Linked DNA regions of Homo sapiens: region 2 is linked to region 1. Evidence: fine-mapped expression QTL. Tissue or cell type: spleen. Region 1 holds a variant in brackets; the other region holds the start of a gene. All regions are shown on one strand. Distances are between the middles of the regions.

Evidence for each region. PIP is the estimated chance that this variant, and not a neighbour inherited with it, causes the effect.
Region 2: SLC5A4 starts here. The variant in region 1 is fine-mapped to the expression of SLC5A4 in spleen (GTEx, PIP above 0.99).

What each region holds. Positions count from the first base shown.
Region 1 is chr22:32,347,777-32,356,017 of GRCh38, forward strand. It overlaps a transcript of SLC5A4 not described here and a transcript of RFPL3 not described here. Among named protein-coding and RNA genes, the nearest start is that of RFPL3, 6.0 kb to the right of the region's middle. The variant A/G (reference allele first, on the strand shown) is at 3,724.
Region 2 is chr22:32,251,053-32,259,052 of GRCh38, forward strand. It overlaps SLC5A4 (solute carrier family 5 member 4), which reads right to left and starts at 4,295. Exons shown (of 15, transcript NM_014227.3): 1 at 4,143-4,295; 2 at 3,090-3,161; 3 at 718-822. The coding sequence starts at 4,277. All of the region lies in intron 2 of SLC5A4-AS1 (SLC5A4 antisense RNA 1), which reads left to right.

The DNA.
Region 1 (8,241 bases):
GCACACCAACATGGTACATGTATACACATGTAACAAACCTGCATGTTGTGCACATGTACCCTAAAACTTAAAGTATAATAATAATAAAATTAAAAAAAGAAAATGAACTCATAACTATAAAATTACCCACAAAAAAAAAATCAATGCCTATTAAAAAACGGTTCAATTTAAAGAACAGAATTCCAGTTCTCAGCTCCAACACTGATCAGCTTCGACAAATCTGTTCCCCTCTCTGGACCTTGTTTTTTGGATACTTCACATGGGGATAATAACAGCATTGACGGCTGGGTTGTGGTGAGAATTAAGGAAGAGAGTCTGCATAGTAAATCCTCCATAAACATGGGCTTCTGTGACTTAGGGTGAGCTCCTGGAGGACAGGGAGGTGTCCCGTTTTTTCCAGGACACCTCCAGGGCCCCACCCCAGGACTTCGCTCTGTGCCAGACACGCAGTAGAAACACAGATTGCTGAAGGAACTGAGTCTCCATTTCTGTGGCTACTGGCCAAAGACCCAGAGAGCCAAGGCAGGCTTCCAGAATGCCCTCCCCACCCAGGCCAACTCTCCTGTGTGTATCCATCTCATTTCCTGGGTAGGTGAGGGCAGAGCAGCAGCCCAGGCCTGGCCTTCTGTGCTGAGTCTGGTGGGGGCCAGCAGCAGCTGCTCCTCCAGGGGAGTGCCTCCCAGTGGAGGCCAGGAAGGAGGGGAGAGCTGGGGGTGGTGGTGTTACCAGAAAAGGGTCCCGATCCAGACCCCAGAGAGAGCTCTTGGATTTCTCAAAAGAAAGAACTCAATATGAAACCAAATTTTATTTTTACGTTAGTACATCTTTAATGTTAAAGCTACTTTTTAATAATAAAATTTTATGAATCTATCCAGTTTTAATTAATGACTATAAGGTAAGATTTTCGTAACTATTTATAACTCTTTATAACATTTTTTCTTGTTAAAGAACTGATCAATGTTCCAAAAAACCCTATTATTTTGACATATGGGCCCAGATTCTGGCTCTGTTTCAGTGCCTTCTGTTTTAATATTTAATTTATGGAAGAACTAAATAATACCCTTTTCATTTTGGTCAACACGCTCAGACACACAATTCTTTACAAAGTTAAGTTTCATAAATGTCCCATAACTTGCTTAAATTTTATTTTCTTTCAGCTAAAAATAATACTTAAAATTTCTAAGTTTAGACAAAACTCTTTGTTGTTGTTGTTTTTTTAAGACAGAGTCTTGCTCTGTCGCCAGGCTGGACTGCAGTGGTGCGATTCGGCTCACTGCAACCTCTGCCTCCCAGGTTCAAGTGATTTCCCTGCCTCAGCCTCCCGAGTAGCTGGGATTACAGGCGTGTGTTACCAGCCTGGCTAATTTTTTGTGTTTTTAGTAGAGACAGGGTTTCACCATTTTAGCCAGGATAGTCTCGATCTCCTGACCTCATGATCCACCCACCTTGGCCTCCCAAGGTGCTGGGATTACAGGCGTGAGCCACTGCGCCCGGCCTTCCCACGCCTTTTTTAAAAAATCAAAAACAGGTAATATTTCTTTTTAGTATAAGCAGTTTTAATTACGTACCAGGTGCAGAGTCTAGGATACAAGACAGAACTGCAGATAAAGTCAACTCTTTCTAGCATAGCTAGGAGGCATGGCTAACTCCACCTGTCCCAGGGCCTTACATAGAAATCTAACAGCTCCAAACCACATAATCTGAACAATTTTCTAAAGTCAAAGAAGTGGTCTATGACATTAAAGCACTTAGCAAATTTAACCTCTGACTTAATTTACACCAAATGTCTAAATTTTGAAGACATTTTCATTTTACCAATAACTTTTAAAAGCCTTTATTCCCCAAAGATTACTGAAATCACATGAACTAAAAGGCATTAGAGCTTCTATTTTTCTTAAGAAGTATTTGAGAGCTTTCATTCTCTTTAAAGCCAGTTAATTAGAACTCCTTTATACAAACATCACACATACAGCACTTCTAGACAAGATTGAGCAGTTCTAAGTTTTTCTTTCCCATATTATGGCTTTCTGACTTGTCCTATATTTCTCTCTTTTTCTAAATAGTCATTCTACTTTAGGACAAGAATTTGTAATACAAAATCCTCCCTCCCATAAAATCTCTTTCCTTCATAACCTTCTTTACCATAAATACACCTTCTTATCCGCAACTTTCTTTAGCTCTCTTTCCCCAACTAATTTCTGATGCCCGCCCTCAACAAAAAGGTCAGCTAAAGCAAGGCAAAACAAAGCAGAGCCTTCCCCAGGTTTTGAGAGGGACCTGTCTGCTTACACTTCTTGGGGGTCCATGAGGAAAACAGAGGCTCCTCCTAAAATGGGGTCTCTGGCACCTTCTGTTTTTCCCAAGGACTCCCAGGCTGCCAGAAATTACCTTAGCTCCTCTCATGTGGCCATCAAGAGTGACAGCAAGACAAAGACTACCGAAATAATTCAGTCAACTGAGAAGAAAAACTTAATACTGCCCCCATTGTAAAGATGGATACGCGGAAGTGCCACGCAGTTTAAAAATTCATGTACACATACAGTTAGGCTCCAAAGCTCACTCAACCATCCTGTAAAAGTCTGCTAACACTACGCCCAGTCACTGATGCACTTGGTATGGTAGCTCATGGCCCCCTTAGAGCTTAGAACCTGGGTTTCATGTCCTCATCTACAGCTATATAATTTAACAATTTTCCTCTGAATTTGTTGGCTTCTACCCCTATATATCTCAAATTGTATTAATATTACTCAATCTTAAAGGAGACTGTGATGCCTTTAGTCTGTAGAAACATTAATCTGTAAACAAATGACTACATGAGGTTAACGGTATTCAAATTTTTTCTATATGCTTTAAAACACTAAGGCTATGTATTGAGAAACACACCTAAGAAACTGCAACCGATCTACTCTGGACAAAAATTTAGACACGTCTTCAAAATAAGCTATATAGTGGTACTTAGGCATATTTTTACACATATCAACAGTATTTTACATATTCATGACCTTAAAAATAATTTTAAAAGTGTAAAAATTATAGACCTTATATATTTGTTGGCTTGAAAAAAATGATACAATATATATTGTTTCCTTAAAGCAGTCAATACAATGCATAAATTTCTAGAGAAATCAGTAAAAAAAAAAAAAGTTCATAACAAAGGTAGTAACATTAGGAATAAAAGAGGGCTCAACACTGCAGGTTCTTAAAGGCAAAAGTTAGTGAAGCATTGTTTTTGGTTGTGAATCTTGCCCTAAAAACATTATAATTCCACATGATCCTCCCCTTCCTTTTCCTGTTGCAACGATGTGATGAACCAAATTTGCTTATGCAGATGACAATACTCTCAGAAAATGGTGGCAGAGAAATAAAATGAAGGGAATATGGTTCTCTTAATGATCTCATACACTGGAACTTATTACCTCCATGCCTCTTGCCTATCTCCAGACTAATATGGGAGAGAGAGAAAATGGCTGTTTGCAACCAATATTTTATTTGACGCTTCATTTTTTGATTCCCCAAATAACTACTTACAACGAATTAACAGGATATGAAAGCACAGCTACTCAAGAATCTAAATAATTATCCAACTGATTTTTTCCTCATCTCTAAAACAATAACGGACCGATCATTTTTAAAATACAACACACTGGGCCGGCGAGGTGGCTCACGCCTGTAATCCAAGCACTCTGAGAGGCTGAGATGGGAAGATCACAAGGTCAGGAGTTC[A/G]ATACCAGCCTGGCCAACATGGCGAAACCCCATCTCTACTAAAAATACAAAAATTAGCCGGGCACAGCAGTATTCGCTTGTAATCCCAGCTACTCAAGAGGCTGAGGCAGGAGAATTGCTTGAACCTGGGAGACAGAGGTTGCAATGAGCAGAGATCACCACTGCACTCCAGCCTGGGCAACAGAGCAAGATTCCGTCGGGGCGGGGGTGGGGGGCGTGGGGGGAGGGTGGGGGCGGTGGGGGGAGGGCGGGGGGGGGGTGGGCGGGTGGAATACAATGACAAGTCGTCTATTTTTAACTCAGTTTTGGACTGTTGTTTGTTAAGGCCATTGCTTGTGATAAAGAAAACAAAGGGAGGAGGAGGAGAAACAAGAAAGGACACAAGAAATAGAAGCAGCAGCATAAGAAAATGAACAGGAACAAGAAAATGATGATAAGCAGAAGAAAAACCAGGCTGGAAAAAAAGAAAAAGAACAGGTAAGAGAATCAAGGAGACCTATTATACATTTTGTCCCCTTCCTGATTCATGAAATTTAAAAAAGTCCAAGAAAATGTGGCACATATGCACCATGGAATACTACACAGCCATAAAAAATGATGAGTTCATGGCCTTTGTAAGGACATGGATGAAGCTGGAAACCATCATTCTCAGCAAACTATCACAAGGACAAAAAACCAAACATCGTTATGTTCTCACTCATAGGTGGGAATTGAACAATGAGAACACTTGTACACAGGAAGGGGGACATCACATACCAGGGCCTGTTGTGGGATGGGGGGAGGGGGGAGGGATAGCATTAGGAGATATACCTAATGCAAATGACGAGTTAATGGGTGCAGCACACCAACATGGCACATGGATACATATGTAACAAACATGCACGTTGTGCTCATGTACCCCAGAAATTAAAAAAAAAAAAAGTCCAAGACTACCCTGACAAAAAACCAAGCAAAATGATACACAAATAGTTACCCCCCAAACTTCTGTTAATAACATAATGGTGCCACTCACACCTGACTCAGGTGCCAGCAGGAGGAGGGCGCCCTCCAGATTCTGCAGGAGATGCGGGGAAGACTCCTCCTTCCCCTGGCTGCACCTCCACCGCTGTCACAGAGGCCCACAGCTTCCTACCCACCCCAGGCCAGGCAGGGCTGCCCCCCAACGCTCCGACCTGCCTTCCCGGCCCCCAAACTTGCTGCTGCTGCTGCCACAACTAGCACCGATGCTAATACAACTACTACTGCTGTCACCCTCAACGCACAGGCCCACCCTACAAGGCTCCTAACACCTGACCACTGCACTGCCTGTGCCCTGGCGGCAGCCAGCCGCCATCCTACCGCTCTGGTGCTCTTCAGTTTTCATTGCCGCCCTCCTACCACTCCAGCGCTGAGTCTTTAGTCTCCATGGCCGCCACCAACCACAGCGAGGCGAGCGGTGGTGCCACAAGCTCCAGCCTCCAGCAGGCGGCTCCTCCTCCTGGCATGAAACAACTGGGCAGGCAAAGCCAAGAAAGCCTAGAACAGGATGCAGAGAGTGGTAGCGTTAGAGCCTCACCTTGGCATGCTGGCCACTGGATGGCAGAGGCCGGTTTCAGCGAAGGCACTCACGCCCACCCTCCAAAGTCCAGCCTCTCCTTTTGGCCCAAGTTGGCCAGGAACTAGGGCCTGGAGTGGGGACTGGAGACACCACAGTGCCCGGGCTTCCTACTCTACTAGAACCGCTGGGCCCACCCTGGCTGCGTTCCTCGGGAAGCAGGAGCAGCAAAAACTGAACCCCAGCCAGCCCTCCCAACCCTAGTGCTGGTTCCCGTTCCTGACGCCTCCACCCACGGGGCCCTATCACCCCGTAGTGTCAGCTACTGCGTGCCCGGGGGTCCCAGGCAGTTTCCGCAACACATAGAGGGCGCGGGCCTGGGAACCACGGCTGGTCTAGGTGACGGATTGTGCTCAGGATCCCCGCGGAAACGCTGTGCATCCGCCGCGCTCCAGCAGGAGGAGATGGCCCTCTAGAGTCTGGAGTCCGGGGAGACGAGGACCGCTCCTCTGACCACCCGTCACTGACACCACCAGCACCAGGGGGGCAGCGCAGCCCCCAACAGCACCCCTAACCCGCCGCCGGCAGTGTAGCCCCCAGATAGCGCCTCCAACACCTCACCCCCAACCACCGGCAGTGTAGCATCCAATGGCGACCCCAACCTGCCCTTGCTTCGGACACTGCAGCACCCAATGGCGCCCAGAACCCGCCCCCTGCCGCGGGCAGTGCAGCCCGGGATAGCGCCCCCAATCCGCTCCCTGCCGTACACAGTGTAGCCACGAATAGTGCCCCCAACCAGACCCCTGCTGGGGGCAGTAATGCCCTGATATGGCACCCAAACCGCCCCCCAACTGCGGGAAGTGCAACCCCGGATAGTGCCCCAACCTGCTCCCCACTGGGAGCAGCAACCCAGGGAGACGCCCCAACTCACTCCCTGCCTCCGGCAGTACAGCCACAGATAGCGCACCCAACCCACCCCCTGCGCGGGCAAGGTAGCCCCCGATAGCGCACCCAACCCGCCCCGCCGGAACCAATGTGGCCCCAGGTAGCACACCCACCAGCTCCCTGGCACGCAGTACAGACCTCTGATAGCACCCAACCCGCCCCCTCCCAAAACGGGCAGTGGATACGTCCCTCAATAGCGCCCCCAACCAGCCTCCCACCCCCTCTACACGGGCAGTCTGGCCCCCAGTAGCACTCCCAATAAATCCTGCTATCTCTGTCTCAGTGTAGGCCCCAGAAAGCGCCCTCAACACCCCCCTCCCTGCTGCCAACAGTGTAGCACCCTGTAATGAGCCTAACCCGTCCCCCACCACAGCACTGCAGCCCCAGATAGTGCTGCCAACCTGCTCCCTGCTGTGGGCAGTGCAGCTATGGATAATGCCCCCAGCCAGCTTCTAGACGCAGGCAATGATGCCCTGGATATAACACGTCCCGCCCACCGCAGGCAGAGTAGCACCCGATAGCGCCCCCAACCCGTGCCTGACAAGGGCAATGCAACACCCGATAGTTCTTCCAACTCGCCCGCCGGCCACGGCCACTGCATCCCCAGATAGTGCCCCCAGAACTCCCCACTGCCGCTAGCAGTACAGCTTGGGATAGTGCTCCAACCCACCCCCAGCCACGGGCAGCGCACACCCGATAGCACCCCCAACCCACTCCCCTCTGTGGGCAGTGAGGCCCCAGATACCACATCCAACCAGCCTCCTAACACGGGCAGTAACGCCCTGGATAGGGCCTCCAACCCACCCCACCACGCCACGCCACAGGCAGTACGGCCTGGGATGGCGAACTTTTCCCACCACCATTTTACCATTCTGGCTGCGCTCTAGTCTCCCTGGCCCGCACCAACGGCAGCAGCGAGGTGAGCCACGGCAGGCTCCAGCCTCCACTGTGCTAATGAAGTTGCTCCTCCTCCTTTTCCTCTAAGCTTCCAGACTCCAGTGTGCTCAGGAAGTGACTCGTTTTCTTTTTCCTCTAAGCCAGTACTAACCAGCTACACAAGCTGACGCAGGAGAGCTTGGAATGACAAAACTCCCCCCACTTGGCATCATTTATATATGAGAATTTATGCAAATGAAGTTCCTGGGCTACATGTTCTGATTGGATGAGGAAAACCTCTAGGCCTACTCTGATTGGACTTTGTTATCATGTTCTGATTGGTTGTCCTAAGACTTGCTCTCATCCAATCAGAACATGCAAATAAAGCCCAATCAGAGTAGATCTAGAGGTTTTTCTTCTCATCCAATCAGAATATGTAGTCCAAGAACCTCATTTGCATAACCTCGGTAAGGGGAAGTCTCAGTTCCAGGCTCTTCTAGGCTATGTTCTCTGTCTCCACACCTTCCTCTCAGACAGCAGCTGGAGCCCCAGAACCTGGGAGCCTCACAGAGAAAGTCCTGATGTGGGACCTGGTTTTCCACCCGAGACCCAGGATCCAATAAAGAAGTGTTTCCATAAATGATGCATCCTCCAAAGAAGGCCAGTGACTTTCTGTGCCAAGTACCTGACAGAATTGCCATTTCCTAGAGCTGCCAGGCAGCCCTAGGTGCACAGGTCACCTGTGCATGTGTCAGAGACCAAATCCCATCAATATTGAGGCCTTGGTTAAGACAGGTACTTGCTTTTAGTCGTGAAAAGATGCCTGGCTTTGGCAGGAGAATCGCTTGAACCTGGGAGGCAGAGGTTGCAGTGAGCCAAGATTGTGCCACTACACTCCAGCCTGGTGACACAGCGAGACTTTGTCTCAAAAAAAAAAAAAAAAAAAGAAAGAAAAGAAAAGATGGCTGGCTTCAACACTGAGAAAACCAACTCTCCTTGAGCAAATGCTTTGCATATTCTCATAGAAATAAGGGAACACCTATTACCCTCCTTGCACTGCTTCCTGCACAGCTGGGATACTACCTTTCACAAGCATCCTGAGCCACCTGCTGGCCTTTTGTGTGTGTTTCCTTCCTGGCTTCCTCCCATTTTTTTTTCCATCT
Region 2 (8,000 bases), 97 kb before region 1:
CCATGACACATGTATACCTATGTAACAAACCTGCAGGTTCTGCACATGTATCCCAGAACTTAAAATTGACAAAGAAGACAACAACAAACAAATAAGCAAAAAAAAAAAAAAAAAAAAAAAAAAACCAAAGAGGAGAACATTCTATACAGACACCCAGAAAAACCTGGGATATGACTTCCATTAATATACCTGGATGCTATGGTTTCAACGTGTACCACCAAGTTCATGTGTTGGAAACTTAATCCCCAATGCAACAGTATTGAGAGGTTAGACCATTAAGGGGTGATTAGGTTATGAGGGCTCTTCCCTCATAAACAGATGGATCCCATTATTGAGATAATGGGTTAGTTATAGTAGGAGTGGGTTCCTGATTTTAAAAAATGAGTTTCACCCTCTCCTCCCCTTTTCTCTTCTGTCTCTGTCTCTGTCTCTTTCTCTCTCTCTCTCATCCTCCATCCCTCTCTCTCTCTCTCTCTCTCTCTCGTGCCCTATTGCCCTTCCACCTTCCACCTTCCACCATGGGACGATGAAGCAAGAAGCCCTTGCCAGATGTGGGTCCCTCAGCCCTTGCACTTCCCAGCCTTCAGAGCTGTCAGAGATACATTTCTGTTCTTTATAAATTATCCAGCCTGTGATATTCTGTCATAGCAGCATAAAACATACTAAGACACTGGATATGGTTTTGATTTGAAGGAAAAAGCCTATGATGTCACTTACAGTCCATTCAAATGTTACGGTGGCGACTCCTGAAGCTGCTCCTGTCCCAGCCAGCCCCACATAGTGGTTGCTGCCGATGTTACTGGCAAAGAGAGAGGCGCCCATCTGGAATGCAAGAGAACAGACTAGGGTTGGAGTTAAAAGATCCAAATCAGACTTCTTGAAAATAGACAGATGTAGCTGGGCGTGGTGGCTCACGCCTGTAATCCCAGCACTTTGGGAGGCTGAGGCGGGTGGATCACAAGGTCAGGAGATCAAGACCATCCTGGCTAACACGGTGAGACCCCATCTTTACTCAAAATACAAAAAAATCAGCCGGGCGTGGTGGTGGGCGCCTGTAGTCCCTGCTGCTCTGGAGGCTGAGGCAGGAGAATGGCATGAACCCAGGGGGTGGAGCCTGCAGTGAGCGGAGATCGCGCCACTGCACTCCAGCCTGGGTGACAGAGCAAGACTCTGTCTCAAAAAAAAAAAAAAAAAGAAAATAGACAGATGCTGAGATGTTTCAGTCACTACTCCTCAGAGCAGGAGTCAAGCAAACAATGGCCCCTGGGCTAATCCAGCCCACAGTCAGTTTCTGAATGGCCCACGAGCCAAGAATGTTTTTTTACATTTTTGCATTGTTAAATAATGGTAAACAATCTAAGTAAGCATAATATTTTGTGAAATGTGAAATTGTAAACTTGTGAAATTGTATGATTCAAATTTCATTGTCTGGAACACAGCCGTGCTCATTGGTTTTCCATATGGACTTGGGCTGCTTTTTGTCCTACAACAGCGGGGTTCTGTGGCTGCAATAGACTATATGTCTAGAAAACTCTAAAGTATTTACAATCTGGCCTTTTACAGAAAAGCTCGTTGGCCCCTGTCTTGGGGGAGCATTGGTCAATCTACTAAAATGCTCTGAGTTGAGCCTGTCCTTGGCCAAGCACTGCCAGATCTCCCATCAGCTCTTCTCCCTTTAATCATATGCAAAGACCCCAAGCTGGCTAGGAGGGAGTTTCTCTCCATCCTCCCAGCCACAGGACACTCTTTTCATTCATCCCCTCGCCATTACAGTGTCTGCTGTTCTAAAGACCCAGAGACCAAGAGAGGTCTCTTGAGTGGACGTAGATGAGCACCAGTCCTAGCAGAAGAGAATTGGGGTGTGGCTCTTCCCACTTTTTAAGGCCTCTGTAAAATCACTTTTTCTGCTCAGCTACATGGGGCCAGAGGATGGGATTGAGCTGGTTTTTGGCTTCAAGATCGCTTGAGCCTCCTTGCATGTTTCACTAAACAGTCCTAAAAATGCAATGTCTGATTGGATGTCCCAAATAAAATTCATTTCAAACTTCCAGTTGTTCTGCTTCAGTCACCCCAGCCAGGACAGTTGCCCATCTCCACTTCCCCTCATACCATTTAGAAAATGAGTCAGATCTGTGAAGGAAGCATTTGCTAAGCACCCACTGTATAATGTGATGCTGGGCTGACACTCTCCAGGTGCAGAGGGGAAGATACAGCCTCTGCTGCAGTGGGACCCTGGCTGAGGGGGTCACACATCAAAACCCCACAAGAACACCCACTGGGCAAGAATCAAGAGGCATCAGCATTAGCACCATCACAGGGAACACAACCAATAACTGCATGGGACATAGGGACCCATGGAGAGAGCCGGGAGGCTCCTCAGATGAGAAAGGGCTGAGGTGAGGCATTGAAAGAGGACAGCAGACAAGGGGAGGCCAATCCTAACAAGAGGGCCAGCATCAGCTCAGGACTGGCAACAAAGCAGGAATGCGCAGAGCTTGTAAGAAGCCAGGAGAAGACTCTTGATAAGGAGCAGAAGAAAAGAATATAAGGTGGGGCTGAGCTGGGGTCCTTCAGTGCCAGACTGAACCGGCTGTCATAATAGGTGACATATTGTAATGTCCTGGAATTACAGAGAGGAGCCATGAAGTCGGGGATTTAGGAAAGGAGCCCCAGCGAGTAGGCAACCAATGTACATCAGAAATGATCAACATTCCCAATGTTGTCTACATTCACTTTTTTTTTTTTGAGATGGAGTTTCATTCTTGTTGCCCAGGCTGGAGTGCAGTGGTGTGATCTAGGCTCACTGCAACCTCTGCCTCCCAGGTTCAAGTGATTATCCTGCCTCAGCCTCCTGAGTAGCTGGGATTACAGGCATACACACCACCACGTCCAGCTAATTTTTGTATTTTTAGTAGAGATGGTTTCACCATGTTAGTCAGGCTGGTCTCGAACTCCTGACCTCAGATGATCTGCCAGCCTTGGCCTCCCAAAGTGCTGGGATTACAGGCGTGAGACACCGCACCCAGCCTACATTCAGTTTTAAGCACACACACAGGAAATTTATCTCCAGAAAACTTCGATCCACTTACCGGCCACCAGGCCATATCACGACCAGCGAGGAAGAAGCCTCCTATAGTACCTCGGTTGGTCTTCAGCATCGCCTGAGCAGAAGGGAAGACAGGTGAGGGTCAAGCCCCAGCAAGTGCACCCAGACACCCCAGAGGCTCTGGCCAGGGTGCTGAGAGGGGTGACTTCAGCACTCCTACAGAGAGAAACATTTCGCTGGAAAGTGTTCTATAGCATCAAATTTTAAAGGACTTCAAAAACAGTCGCTTTGTAAAAACCCAGGGCTGGAAGAACTTAAAAAAATCATAATCCTTAACTTCTATCTTAACTGCTCTGATTATTCTCACTTATGAAAACCATGTGAGGTATCATTGAGCCATGCTTGCAATAAAATTTGCAGTCTCGGCCGGGCACGGTGGCTCACGCCTGTAATTCCAGCACTTTGGAGGGCCGAGGCGGGTGGATCACAAGGTCAAGAGATCGAGACCATCCTGGCCAACATGGTGAAACCCCGTCTCTACTAAAAATACAAAAAGTTAGCCGGGCGTGGTGGCGCATGCCTGTAGTCCCAGCTACTTGGGAGGCTGAGGCAGGAGAATGGCGTGAACCCAGGAGGCGGAGCTTGCAGTGAGCCAAGCAAGCGCCACTGCACTCCAGCCTGGACGACAGAGCAAGACTCCGTCTCAAAAAAAAAAAAAATTTGCAGTCTCAAATTTATTAAAATAAAAAAATTCAACATAAATGAAGAGTCCAACTCACTAAATCAGAAAGTGAGCAAACAACAAAAGAAAGCGAAAGAAATGCGATAATAAAAATACACTCTTTGTCCATTATGCCAGGTGTTGGGGATGCATAGTAAATCTGAAGGTCCCGGTGCTGGCTGTGTGCACACGATGGGGTTATTAGGAGAATACATTAGTTCATTGTAAGCGTTATTTATGCAACACACAAGAAAATGATTCTGATAACACAATGACATTTGTGAAAAGCTTTGTCACAACCACACCCCTTCCCCCCTTAAGATACCCCCTCCTAAACCTTGTGCCCACCCTAAAAGCCACTGGGATTCCACCTACCCACAGCCCAACAGCCATCACCACCAGAAAATAGATGACAATGACTGAGATGTCAGCAGCATTTCGGATGTGGTCAGACAATGGAGGTGGCTCTGGGGTCTCAGCTATGGTGCTGGGGCTAACCGTACTGGCCATGGCTGCAGGCAGTGCTATACCCATTCCACGCATGAGCCATCTTTATATAAGTTCTGGGTTAATGATCAGCCTCAGGCAGGTGGGGCGAGATATCAGAGCCAGCTCCTGGATATGGAGACCTTTAAACCTCTTCTCCAAAGCTGTGGCACCCCAGCCCTCCACCAGTGAGTGCTAGCCTAGGTAGAGTGTGAGAATGAGGGATGCAGGGCCAGAAATGAGGGGAGAATTTGAGGTGGAGCATGGGGCGTTCTCTGAGTGCAAAGACAGGGTCTTTAAAGAGATTTGCCCAGGTGGAGGGGGGATTTGAGAGAAATGAAGACAGACAAGGAGGGGAGAAGGACAGACTAGAAGGTACCAGAAACCAGCCAGGAGGGACCGAATGCAATGGTCCTTCAGAGAACAGATACAGTTTCTGACCAATGAGCTATATCCCTTGACAGTGAAGTGAATTATGCCTTTCGTGGATTCCAAAGTCCCACATTTCTCTGAAGTGGGTTTCATGTGCCACAAAAAGACATTGGTGGCCTGTATAGGAAAGGAAGTGGCTCTTCAAGCACCATATGTGGTGAGTTGAGGGCAGAGCTGTGGAGAGCGCTGGGTCAGAGGGTTGTACAAAGAGTGAATCAACCTGGAAGCATGTGATGGGGATCATGAGGACTCAGGAAACAAGACTCCTGGACTACAGCCAAGAAGAAGTTAGAAGTAAAGCCTATGCGGTGGCTGACACCTGTAATCCCAGCACTTTGGGAGGCCAAGGAGAGAGCATCACTTGAGGCCAGGAGTTCAAGACCAGCTTGGGCAACATAGGGAGTCTTTGTCTCTATAAAAATTAGCTGAGTGTGGTGATGCACACGTATGGTCCCAGCTACTTGGGAGGCTGAAGAGGGAGGATCACCTGTGACTGGGAGGTCAAAGCTATAGTGAGCCATGATCACGCCGCTGCACTCTAGCCTGGGCAACTGAGCAAGATCCTGTCTCAAAAACAAACAAAAAAAACAACAACAAAAAAACAAAACCAAAAACACACATGAAAAAACGGAAAGCCCAGAAATTCTTCTTTTATACTTCATTTTTTATTGTGGCAAAGCATACATAGCATAAAATTTACCATTTTAATCCCTTTTAAGTGTACAATTCATTGGCATTAAGTACATTTACAGTGTTATGCAGCCATTACCACTATCCATTTCCAGAACTTTTTCATCATCTCCAAACAGAAGTATGTACCCACTAAAAACTAACTCCCCATCCCTCCCTCTCTCCAGGCCCTGGTAACCTCTGTTATTCTTTCTTACTATATAAATTTGCCTATTCTAGGTACCTCATACAAATGAAATCATACAATATTTTCCTCTTTGGTTTATTTCACTTAGTATGACATTTTCAAGGTTCATCCATATTGTAGCATGTATCAGAATTTCCTTCCTTTTTAAGGCTGAATAATATTCCAATACTCATATATACCACATTTTGTTTATCCATTCAACTGTTGATGGGCATTCAGGTTCTTTCTATACTTGGCTATTATAAATAATGCTGCTGAGAACACTGGTGTGCAAGGATCTGTTTGAATCCCTACTTTCAATTCTTTTGAGTCTATATGTAGAAGTGGAATTGCATGTGATAATTCTGTGTTTAACTTTTTGTAGAACTGCCAAACTGTTGTTCACAGCAGCTGCACTATTTTACATTCTTTCCACAGTGCATAGGAGAGTTAATTTCTCCATATCCTCTTCAATACTTGTCATTTATGTTTTAATTATAGACAGGCTAGTAGGTATCAAGTGGGTATCACAATATAGTTTTGATTTACACTTCTAACACAATCACTAGTAGTGTTGATTTTTTCATGTGCTTATAGCCATTTGTGCATCTTCTTGGAGAGAGATATATTCAACTTCTTCATCCATTTAAAAATTATGTTGTATTCTTTTTTACACTGCTCCTTGTGGAGCAGGACTACCTCATTGGCAGTGTACCCAGAATAGCCTTATGTTGTATTTTTGTTGCTGTTGAATTGTAGAATTTCCTTTTTATTTCTCAGAGACAGGGTCTCATTCTGTCACCCAGGCTGGAGTGCAGTGAGGTAAGCATGGCTCAGTGCAGCCTCAACCTCCTGGGCTCAAGTGATCCTCCCATCTCAGCCTCCACCATAGCTGGGACCACAGGCACATGCCACCCATGCCTGGCTAACTTCATTTTTTTAGAGGTGGGGGTCTTACCATGTTGTCCAGGCTGGTCTTGAACACCTGGGCTCAAGTAATTCCTTGTCTCAGCCTCTCAAAGTGCTGGGATTACAGGCATGAGCCACTGAACCCAGCAAGGTTTTCTTTTTTTTTTAATTTTTTTTTTTGAGACAGAGTTTCACTCTTGTTGCCCAGGCTGGAGTGCAATGGCACAATCTTGGCTCACTGCAACCTCCATTTCCTGGGTTCAAGCGATTCTCCTGCCTCAGCCTCCCGAGTAGCTGGGATTACAGAAACACACCACCATGCCCGGCTATTTTTTGTATTTTTAGCAGAGATGGATGGGGTTTCACCATATTGACCAGGCTGGTCTTGAACTCCTGACCGCAGGTAATTCTCCCGCCTTGGCCTCCCAAAGTGCTGGGATTACAGGTGTGAGCCACCTCGCCCAGCTAAGGTTTTCTTTATGTATTCTTTATTTTATTTGTGAGACAGAGTCTTGCTCTGTTGCCCAGGCTGGAGGGTGGTGGTACAATCTCCACTCACTGCAGCCCCCACCTCGCAGGTTCAAGTGATTCTTCTCCTGCCTCAGCCTCCCGAGTTGCTGGGATTACAGGCATGCACCACCATTTCCAGCTAATTTTTGTATTTTTAGTGGAGATGGGGTTGTGTCATGTTGGCCAGGCTGGTCCTGAACTCCTGATCTCATGTCATCTGTGAATAGAGATGATCTTACTTCTTTTCCAATTAGAATGCCTTTTAATTATTTCTATTTCTTACCCACTTATTCTGGCTGGGACTTCCAATGCTATGTTGAATAGAGGAAGTATGGTTGATTCCAAAATATAAAATAACCCCCCACAACTCAATGGCAAAAACAAAAAAACTAATAAGCCAATTAAAATGGGCTAAAGACTTAGACATTTCTCAAAAAAACACAAACCAATAGCCAAGAGGTATATGAAAAATTGTTCAACGTCACTAATCGTCGGGAAAATGCAGATCAAAACCAGTATGAAATATCCCCTCACACCTGTCAGGATAGCTATTATAAAAAAAAGAAAAAAAAGACAAGTATCAAGGATGTGGAGAAATTGGAACCCTTGTACACTGTTGTTGAGGGTGCAAAATGGTGCAGCTCCTATGGAAAACGGTATGAAGCTTCTTCAAAAAGTTAAAAATTGCAAGTGATCTAGCAATTCCATTTCTGGGCATGTATCCAAAAAAATTGAAATTGGCATCGCAAAAAGATATATCTGCACACCCATGTTCATAAGTACTATTCACAAAAGATACAGAAACAACCTAATGTCCATCAGTGGATGCATGGATAAAGACTATGTGGTATATGCATCCATGGAATATTATTCAGCCTTTGAAAGGCAGAATATTCTACAATATGCAACAATGTGCATGAACCTTGAGGACATTATGCTCAGTGAAATAACCTGTCACAGGAGGTCAAATATTGCGTAATTCCACTTATATGAGGTACCCCAAATGGTCAAATACATAGAATTCGTGAGTGGAATGGTAG